2 separate regions of the Homo sapiens genome follow, and region 1 is linked to region 2. Evidence: fine-mapped expression QTL. A gene starts in region 2. The other region holds a variant in brackets. All regions are shown on one strand. Distances are from middle to middle.

Region 1 (5,370 bases), 250 kb before region 2:
GTGGCACAATCTCGGCTCACTGCAACCTCTGCCTCCCGGGTTCAAGCAATTCTCCTGCCTCAGCCTCCTGAGTAGCTGGCATTACAGGCACCCACCACCACGCCTGGCTAATTTTGTATTTTTTTAGTAGAGACGGGGGTTTCTCCATGTTGCTTAGGCTGGTCTTGAACTCCCGACCTCAGGTGATCCGCCTGCCTTGGCCTCCCAAAGTGCTGAGATTACAGGTGTGAGCCACCATGCCTGGCCTCCAACTTGATTTTTAACCACTCCCAAGACAGGGCAGGTTCCCATGAGCTCCCAGACCTTTATCTGTGCTTTTTCCTCTGCCTCGCTCACCTCGCCAACTCTTCTCCATCAGCCACTTCTCCCTTCATGCCTCGGTCATGTACCCCTCTGCTGCTGCCTCAGGCCTGGCGCTTGCTGCCCTCCTCACTAGCCTCCCTCTTGCTTGCTGCCCTCCTCACTAGCCTCCCTCTTGCACTGGACTGTGGGTCCATGGAGAATGGCAGCCCAGTCCAATTACTTCTGCAATCCCATGATCAGGCACAGGGCATGACACACAGAAGTCCTTCCAACGAAGTTTCATAAAGGACAAAAGGGTGCTAAGAGGGCCTCTGAGCTCCACCTATGGCATCCAGAAGTACCCCAAGTCAGCCTAGACAAAAAGAAATGAAACAAAGCCAACGAGCCTCACCCTGGGTAGGTGAGGACATCAAGGCCCAGGGAGCTGAAGCCCTTTGCCCCAGTTCCCACGGGAGTTGACAGGCTGAGACAGAGCCCAAGCCTTGTTTCTGATGGAAAGGCTGGGGTTCCTGCCAGTGCTACAGTGACACCCAGCCCAGGAAGGAGGGCTAGCCTGGTGCAGGCCCCAGAGCATCTTCCCTCAGCTGTGACAATACTAATGCTCCTGGCTAGGAAGTCACCTAAGGGACAGGGCAAGGCAGTGGCCCACCCTTAATACCAGTTTCTGCCCTACCCCAGAGTGTCCAGGGTCCTCTTCCCAGGAGTTCTTCAGCCTCTAGACTCCCTCAGCCCTGGCTTCTGTCCCCACTCAGCACTCTTGGGGAACATGGCACACTCTGGGCCCTGGGGGACTGGGGAATCCTCAAGACAGGCCTTTTTGCCTGTTTTGGTGTCTCTGGCCTCCTTCTTTCTCCCTTCTCAGCCAAGAAGTAGGCAGGAGAGGCTGAGAGGCAGGAAATTACCCTGACTGGAATGATCGTGCAGTTCCTGAGGAGCCCTGCTTGGCTCCGCACTGGGGTGGAGGCTGGCCACAGCATGAGAATGACAAAAACAAGAATGCCGGCCAGAGATCCAGGGCCTTGCACTCTCCAAGAAATCCTGATCTGTTCTTGGCAGCACCCCAAACCCAAGCTGCCTGCCCTCAAAGGCCAATCCTTGCTCCCCACTCAAAAATATTTTAATGATTTCCTGTTTCCTGCAACTGCCTGGAATCCAAAAGCTTCTCCTGTCCTTCAACGCCCCCCAGAATGTAGCCTTCACACACTGAGGTCTGAGGGTAAAGACAGGCCTGAGTTCAAATCCTGACTCTGACTCTGTCGCCTCTGTGTGATCTTGGGCAAGTCACTTCATTCACCTCTCTGCCTCCATTTCTGCATGAAGTCCTTAGCAGAGGGATAGGCACACGGTAAGCACAAGTCTCTGCTACTGTTATTACTCATTCGAATCCACCCCAGCCAGATCTGTCTGTATACTGTCCCCTCTAATTATCCACCCCGTGCTTATTTCATGCTGTGCCTTCTACTTGGAATGCCCAATTCCTTTTCCTCTTTTGGTCCAAACCCCTATCAACATTGTTCAATCTTCATCCTTTAATGGCTGCTGGGGTACCCATGATGGGGAGCACAAAAGGTATGAAGACAAAGAAATTTATAGGCACCCTGCCTGGGTGACCCCTCCCCTTGGTGAGGGATGAGCATCTCCAGGAGAGGTACTTTTTGGTGGAGGTAGTGTAGCATAGTAGTTCAGAGTATGAAGTCTATAGTCAGAATGCCTGGCTTTAAACCTTGAGTTTATATGTATAAAGTTCTTAGAATAGCTCCTAGTAAAGACTAAGCACTCGATGTGTGTTTTTGTTTTTTTTTTTTTGAGATGGGGTCTCGCTCTGTTGCCCTGGCTGGAATGCAATGGCAAGATCTCGGCTCACTGCCACCTCCACCTCCTGGGTTCAAGCGACCTTCCTGCCTCAGCCCCCCGAGTAACTGGAATTATAGGCATGCACCACCATACCCAGCTAATTTTTATATTTTTAGTAGAGATGAGGTTTCACCATGTTGGTCAGGCTGGTCTCGAACTCCTGACCTCAGGTGATCTGCCTGCCTCGGCCTCCCAAAGTGCTGGGATTACAGGCGTGAGCCACCATGCCCGGACTAGCACTCAATATTTTTTGCCTAGAATGATCATTATTAATACATCCTCCCATCCTGGAACTGTGATGCTCCATGACTGGAAAATGAGGTCCAAGACACCTCAGGTTGCTAAGTTTCCTGAAACTGCCCTTCTATCCCTCTATCTTCCCAGGTTCTCACCAGCAACTGGGAGGGAGGCAGATGGACCAGAATAGCCACACTAACTGGGGGAAAAACAGGCTCAAGGAATAACTGATGAGCACCAGGTACCAGACAGCGGGGCATTAGGGACCCGAGGTTACCCCCACCCACTGACACATGTGACATTTCACTGTCACTCTCTCTTGTCTTGCTTTAAACCAGTGCCTGCTGAAGGTGACTAGCTACTCTGAGGTTTACATCATGAACCCTCTCCCTCACCCTGGGTCAGGTCATGCTGCCTTACCATGGCTTGGAAAATCCACCCTCCCTTATCCTGTGCATTTCAAAAAGTCACTGGGATACCAACAACTTCTGCTCACTCCCGCCTGCAGGGCTTTTACTAAGAGAGCTCTTTCAAACCTGCTTAGTTGGCAGGACAGTGTAGTGGTCAGAGGCAGGCTCTGCCATCAGACTGGTTGGGTCTGTTCCACCACTTGTTCTACGTGTGACTTTGAACACATCACTTCACCTCTGAGTCCCGATGTCCTCATCTGTTGAATAGGGCTAATGATA[C/T]GGTTGTGATGCGGACTGAGATCATACCTGAAAAGTGTCTATAAAAGAGTACCTAGCATAGTCAATGCTGAAAAATGCTACCTACTATTACAAATACCTTGCAGCATGAGTTTTGTCTTATACAGACAGTGTTCTCAGAAACAAAGCTGTAAAGTGAGGCCAGATACATAAAATCCATAATGTTGTCTGAACTGGAAGGGATCTCAGATGATGGTATGCACACCTCCATCAAGCGTCATAGCCTGATGCCCTTAGAGGCCAGGTATATATCAGAAATGCCCAAAGGGGGGTTGGTGGGAGCAGAGGCAGACTAGGGCACTTGTGCAGGGTCTAAAGGGCATGCTCAACATTAAGCTCTATATTATTGCTGCCACTAGGAAAACAGATCTTGTTGAGTTGCTAGATCTTTTGACTTCTCAAGAAAGGCTGGAAATCTCATTTTTAGGGAAAAATTCTTGATTCTTTGTACCACTCACATTTATTTAAAAACCCAACACAACAAAATAAAACCAAACCAAAGTATGGGTTCAATAAGACATGTCTGTAGGTCAGATTCAGCTCTGGGAAAGCCAGTTCACAGCCTCTGCATTGCCTCATAAAGTTGAGGCCTACAGCTTATGTGACTTGTCTAATGCCACAGAGCGAGAGAGCTCTCACTGAGCCTAGTCCAACCTTTTTCAAGTAGGCATGGCCTTCTGGGACACCCCCGCCACTTACCTGTGTTTGCATTGCTCCCAATACTGTTGATGGCTGGCGGCACTGAGCTGGATGGGTGGAAGGGCACGTGTCCATTTTCCCGGGGTGGCTTGTCCTGCCAGCCTGGCCCTGCCTCCCCAGGGCCTAGCTCTGCAGGGCCCCCCCACTCATCTGAGCCTTGACGTGAATGGTAGGAGGGCTCTGGCCGGGAGCGGAAGCCACTAGCCAACCGCTCTTCCAGGTGGCTCAGCCAGAGGGCCAGTGCGTTGCGGTCCTCCAGTGTGGTGGCTGGGTGGATGAGGGCATAGGAAAGCAGCTGGCGACTCTCCTCGATGAAAGCATTGCTCTCGATTGAGTAGGCCAGCACTTTCTGCAGTAGCCTCATGTACTCCGACTTGGCCTCTGTGTTGCCTGGCTGAAGCAGGGGAAGGTGGGACAGCAGGAGGGACACCACCTTCTCTTTGGACTCCTGCTGCCACTGGCTGACGATGGCTACAGAAGGGATAAGAAGAAATATCAGGAGAGCCAGGGTGGGGTACTCCTATTCACCTGAGAGCACTGCCTATGGCCTATTCCCTCAGCTCCAATCTTCTTTTCATAACGATTTTCTTTTCATAACTCCCAAACTTATCCCTCATATAGGTGAGATCAAACACACTGACCCTGCCTCTGGAGTAATTTTTGTCTTATTTTTTTTAAGAGATGGGGTCTCACTATGTTGCCCAGGCTGCAGTGCAGTGGCTATTCACAAGTGCAATCCCACTATTGATCAGCACGGGAGTTTTGACCTGCTCCATTTCCAAACTGGGCCAGTTCACCCCTCCTTAGGCAACCTGGTGGTCCCCCACTCCTAGGAGGTCACCATACTGGGGCCACACTTAGTGCAGACACCCAATCAGCATAGCACACTATAGCCCAGAACTCCTGGACTCAGGCAATCCTCTTGCCTCAGCCTCCCAAGTAGCTGGTACTACAGTCATGTGCCCACCACAGCTGGTGTAGAGTAATTTTTCTTTGTTCTATCACTCCTGTTCTCAGAAACCTGCAGTGCCTCCCAATCAGCCAAACTTGCTACTCTGGAATCTGAACAACTCCTGTCCCCAGGCCTGCTCTCATGCTTTATCTCCATGACTCCTTCCTCCATTCTTCATGGCCTCTATGCCATTTCCCCTGCCAAAAAGCAGTCTCCTTCCTGAATGGAGAAGGCAGTGGTATATGGTAGTTAAAAGCTTGGGCTCTGGAATCAGATGGTCTAGACACCCCAGCTTACTAGCTAGATCTTGGTAAGCTACCTTGAACCTCATGGAGCACTAAATTATCTGCGAAATTTTGGAGATAATTACAGTACCCAATTCACAGTGTTGCTTTGAGATTCAATGAGCTAGCAAAGAACACAAAGTGGTTTGGCGACATAATAAATGCTTGCTATTGTTTTTTAACTGGTCTCTCTGCTTCTAGATTCTCCCCTTCCAATCGATCCCATACATCCAGATGCATTTATCTTCCTAAATCACAACAGGATGTCATGTTCCTGACCAGGAGTTTATAATGGCAACCAGCAAGCACCAACAGACTCAAGTCCAAGAACTCC
Region 2 (5,370 bases):
GTAGGGGCACTCTCCCGGCTCTCTGAAGATGCCCTCGCAAGCCACATCACCGTTTGCAGAGACGCAGTCTTGTGTCACTGGCTTGGGGGCTGGTTCCACTCTGCTCCCACCAGGGAACTGAGTGCCCTCTGAGGCTAGGGGCTCTGTGGATCTCGTCCCCTGCCACACTCCCAGCACCCGGCACAGTGCCCAACAGTCAACCCCCAGCAATGTCACATCCTCTGCAGGCCAGGCAGGGCTTCAGTGGGGACCGAGGCAAGGAACCCCACAGAGCAATTCCACCATGCACCCTAATAATTAAGGTAAGGAGGGAGGTAAGGGCTGGTCAGATGAGAGAAAAAGAGCCTGCAGCAAGGCGAGCCAGGGTGGTCCCGGGCCAGCTGAGAGTGAGCGACCCGTCAGTGAGAGAGGGCAGGGTGGGGAAAGGATTCCCAGCAGAAGGAACAGGAAGGTCAAAGACCGGGCGGGAGGCATGGGCCTGGAGTTGGAGAACAGTAAAGGGGCTGGGGAGAAATGGGCAGAGCCATAAGAAGTGAGGTGGGAGTGACTAAGGACCACAGTGAGAGCTTAGGGTTTTAAGAACAGTGAACACCCCGCTCTGCCCAGGGTACCACCCAGGGACACTCTCCCCAGTCAGAAGCCCGTCGGACTCCCTTGCTCGGACTCCAGACCACCTACAAACACCCTACTCCCATAGGCTCACAGGAATCTTCCCTGCCAGATCACACCCTTCCAAGGAAACCAAGCAGACAATCCGATCCGCCCAGGGAGTGGCCCAGCCCTGCCCAGCCCCCTGCTTCCAGGAGAGACCTAATGGCTGGCAGCGGACAATGTGGCGACCAGGGGCAGGAGCCCTGGAATCACCCAGGCCCAGCTTCGATTCTAACTCTGCCTTCAGCAGAAGCTTCTGAGCCTCATTTTTCCCGTCTGTAAAGTAGGTTCATCTTGAGCACTCACTTCACAAGATTGCAGCAGGAGTGAAATACGACCGGGCACACAGGGCGTGGAGCACAGTGTGAGCCCTCATTAAACATTAACCGACATTATGATGATTTGAGAGGCGGTCGGCCAGAGCAGGGCTCTGGGCCAGAACTCCGGAGTTAGAATCCCAGCGCACAACTTATGCATCGGGTGACCTTGTGCAAATCACTTAACCTCTTAATACCAGGTTAAGACCCCCTAAGACTATAGTGAGGACTGAATAAGCTCATACAAGTAAAGCGTTAAAAAGAGGGTCTAGCCCATAGTGTTTCATGAGTGTTTGCCATTATTATTTGTGGGAGGGTTCCCCCTTCTCCTGTCACCAGGAAGCATCTCTGACCCGGCCCCCCCCCCCCCCCCCGTCCCCCGCAATACGCCCTCCTTGGGTTTTAATTTTTGACTCTGGGAAACAGCTGCCCCGCTGTCAGATTCTCACCTTTGTACCTTCTAGGCACGCCCCAGCTTTGAACCCCTAAAAGACGCCCCCGAACCTAAAACTCATTCATCTGCTCCGCTAGGGGCAGCTTTAAACCTCCAACCTGGCGCCCCTGGGGCTGTGACCTCTGACCCTCGTGGGGGCAGCCTTCCCTCAAATTATTAACTTTGACCCTGCCTTTTTTGAGACTCGCCCAGAACCCCTCGAACGCGCCCCCACTTCGAATTTCAAACTTTGCACTCCCCTTCGCCACGCCCCCTTCGCTGGTTTGATCTCCGACCTCCACTACAACTCCCTCCAGTCTGCGTTAACCCCCGACCCCTCGGACGCGACCCTTCCCTCCACCAGTGACCTTTGACCCCGGCGGCCCCGCCCCCCTCCTCGCGGAAACGCCGTCCCGCCGCCAGCGCCCGGCCCACCGCAAGCCCCTGGCCGGACCCCTTATCCTACCGGCTCGGCGCCGCAGTCGCTCGCGGCCTAACTGCTCGACCTGGAACTCCGCGCCCTCGCGCCTCCCTCAGCTCTCTTGCACCGCCACCACCGCGGACACTCCCGCCGCCATGTTGAATCCCCAACGAACATCCGGGGCTTTCCCCCCTCACCGCCCACCAGTCCCCATAGCAACGAGGCTGACCGGGCAGTGGGCAGGGCCAGTGCGGGGGCGGAGTCGGGCGCCTCTCAGGGCCCGCTCCAGCCTCCGATTGGTACAGAGCGTCCAATCGGAGACCTTCGGGCAGAAAATGCCAAGCGGGGATTGGAAATTTTGGAAAAGGTGCGGGAAGGCTGGCTCCCGGCCCACTGAGGTCCTTAAAGGGGAAATGACTGTTTTCGTGTGATACCGATTTTCTAACTTCCCCCCCAGAAGGAGTTAGGGGCTGGGAGAAAGTAATGAGTTAATGGGCAGAAACAGTTCTTAAGCACTTACTAGGAGGCAGGCACCGGGATAAGTGTTTTACTTGCATTTTCTCGCTGCATATACAACCCTGTGGTATAATATCATTAATACCCATTTTACAGATAAAGAAACAGAGGTTCAGAGGGTGAAATAGCTGGCTTAGCATCATAGAAAGAAGGTAATGAGTTTTGAACGCTGGTCTGTCTGAGCCCGGGAACCTGAGACTGTTTGCTCTTCAATTTTTAAATAAGTTTTTACGAAGTAATTGGTCAAAATATTGAAAACAAACAGCAGACATCTTCTTTAAAAATTTTTTTAAATTTTATTTTTACTTATTTATTTGTCTTGAGATAGAGTTTCGCTCTTGTTGCCCAGGCTGGAGTGCAATGGCGCGATCTCAGCTCACTGCAACCTCCGCCTCCCGGGTTCAAGAGATTCTCCTGCCTCAGCCTCCTGAGTAGCTGGAATTACAGGCGTCCACCACCACACCCAGCTAATTTTTTGTATTTTTAGTAGAGACAGCGTTTCACCATGTTGGCCAGGTCGAACTCCTGACCTCAGGTGATCTATCCGCCTCGGCCTCCCAGAGTGCTGGGATTACACGTGTGAGCCACCAAGCTGGCCTTTTTCTTTTATTTTTAAAGAGAGAGTTTTGTTGTGTTGGCCAGGCTGGTCTCGAACTCCTGGGCTCAAACTATACTCCTGCCTCGGCCTCCCAAAGTGCTGGGATTGCAGGCGTGAGCCACTGCGCCCGGCCAGACATCTCTCCTCCTGGATCTTATTCACTGGACTCCAGCCTTCATGCTGTTCCTGAACTCTTGTCAGGTGCGCTCTCACCTCACAGTCTTTGCACTGGTTGTTCCTCTGCCTGGAACATACTCTTCCCCCAGGTATCCTTATCTCTCCCTCCCTTTTTTCAGGGCTTTACACAGATGTCACTTTCTCTGTGAACTAATTCCCTCGCTCACCCTAAGGAAAGCAGCAAACATCCCTCTCACATACTACCAAACTCTGTCTGCTTTGTTCTTATTTCTCACTCCTAATTGTAGTTATTGCTTGTTGGTTGTCTCCTCTGCTGGAATGTCAGCCCCATGACAACATGGATTTCTGTCTTTGTTCACTGCTGCATTCCCAGTGCCCCAGCACTGTTGGCATGTAGATGCTCAGTAAACATTGGTGGAAGGGCTGTTTGAATGCGTGGTAATTCCACCCCTTCAGAGATACTCTTAAATGTTTGGTGCTTCTCCTCTGCCCCAGAACAGCCACATAGTAGGCATTTAATTAATTTCTACTAATGTCGGTGGCAACAATGAATGAATGATTGAATGATGAGTTAATTTTTCTTTATGTTTACCTATCTTTTTTCTTTTTATTTGTTCATTCGTTTTTTTTTTTGTTTGTTTTGTTTTTTGTTTTTTTTTTTTTTTTTAGATAGGGGTCTTACTCTGTCGCCCAGGCGGGATTGCAGTCTGAAACTCCTGGGCTCAAGTGATCCTTCCAACCTAGCCTCTCAAGTAGCTGGGACTATAGGCATAAGCCACCACACCGGCTAATTTTCTTTCTTTCTTTCTTTTTCTTTCTTTCTTTCTCTTTCTTTCCTTCCTTCCTTCCTTCCTTCTTTCTTTCCTCTTTCTTTCGACAGAATCTCACTTTGTCACCCAGGCTGGAGTGTAGTAGCATGATCTTGGCTCACTGCAACCTCCGCCTCCAGAGTTCAAACGACTCCTGGGCGCCTACCACCATGCCCGGCTAATTTTTGTATTTTTAGTAGAGACGGGGCTTCCCCATGTTGGCCAGGATGGTCTCGAACTCCTGGTCTCAAGTGATCTGTCCGCCTTGGCCTTCCAAAGTGTTGGATTACAGGCATGAGCCACTGCACCTGGCTTGGCTAATTTTCTTAATTTTTAGTAGAGACGGGGTCTCGCTGTGTTGCCCAGGCTGGTCTTGAACTCCTGGCCTCAAACAATCCTCTCACCTTAGCCTCCCAAAGTGCTGGGATTGCAGGTGTGAGCCACCATGACTGACCCCTTTTTTCTTTTGACAGAATTGGAAACATACGTTTGTAAAGAATGTTGTGTCTTTTTTTTTTTTTTTGAGACGGAATTTTGCTCTCATTGCCCACGCTGGAGTACAATGGCATGATCTCAGCTCACTGCAACTTTTGCTTCCCGGGCTCAAGCGATTCTCCCTCCTCAGCCTCCCCAGTAGCTGAGATTACAGGCATGTGCCACCACGCCCAACTAATTTTGTATTTTCAGTTGAGACGGGGTTTCTCCATGTTGGTCAGGCTGGTCTCGAACTCCTGACCTCAGGTGATCCGCCCCGCCTTGGCCTCCCAAAGTGTTTGAATTATAGGCGTGAGCCACCACACCCAGCCTAGAATGTTGTCTTTTAAACCACAAGATTGTAAATATCACCAGTGTCTTTCCATGTCATTAAATATTCTTCAAGAAGATTAGTTTTAATGGCTGCATAAGATGCCATCCTATCAATGAACTCGAATTTGTTTAATCACTGTCCTTTTGAACATCTATGCTGTAGTACCTTGCCATTATAAATAATCCCCCTCCCTGTCATGCAAAATCCAAGCAGCTAAATATTTGTGACCATCTCTAATTATTTCCTTGTGCCTGTCTCTAATTATTGTTCCTACTACAAATGAAACTTCTGGGTCAAGGAGAAGGTGTATCTTTAAGAATTAAGAATAGTAACAGTGGCCGGGTGTGGTGGCTTCCGCCTGGAATCTCAGCACTTTGGTAGGCCGAGGCAGGCGGATCACTTGAGGTCAGGATTTCGAGACCAGCCTGGCCAACGTGGTGAAACCCCCGTTTCTACTAAGAATACAAAAAATTAGCCGGGCATGGTGGTGCACATCTGTAATCCCAGCTACTCAGGAGGCTGAGGCAGGAAAATCGCTTGAACCTGGGAGTCGGAGGTTGCAGTGAGCCGAGGTGGCAGAGGTGGCATCACTGCACTCCACCCTGGGTGACAGAGTGAGTGAGACTCTCAAAAAAAAAAAAAAGAATAGTAACAGTTCCCATGTTTCAAGCATTTCTGT

Evidence for each region. PIP is the estimated chance that this variant, and not a neighbour inherited with it, causes the effect. A credible set is the group of variants that fine-mapping cannot tell apart.
Region 1: its variant is the best candidate, but not a certain one, in a credible set for the expression of PAK4 in testis (GTEx, PIP 0.88).

What each region holds. Positions count from the first base shown.
Region 1 is chr19:39,368,556-39,373,925 of GRCh38, reverse strand. SAMD4B (sterile alpha motif domain containing 4B) reads right to left here. Exons shown (of 14, transcript NM_001384574.2): 4 at 3,801-4,271. It also overlaps the pseudogene RN7SL566P. Among named protein-coding and RNA genes, the nearest start is that of PAF1, 20 kb to the left of the region's middle. The variant C/T (reference allele first, on the strand shown) is at 3,084.
Region 2 is chr19:39,122,417-39,127,786 of GRCh38, reverse strand. It overlaps PAK4 (p21 (RAC1) activated kinase 4), which reads right to left and starts at 2,001. Exons shown (of 10, transcript NM_005884.5): 1 at 1,868-2,001.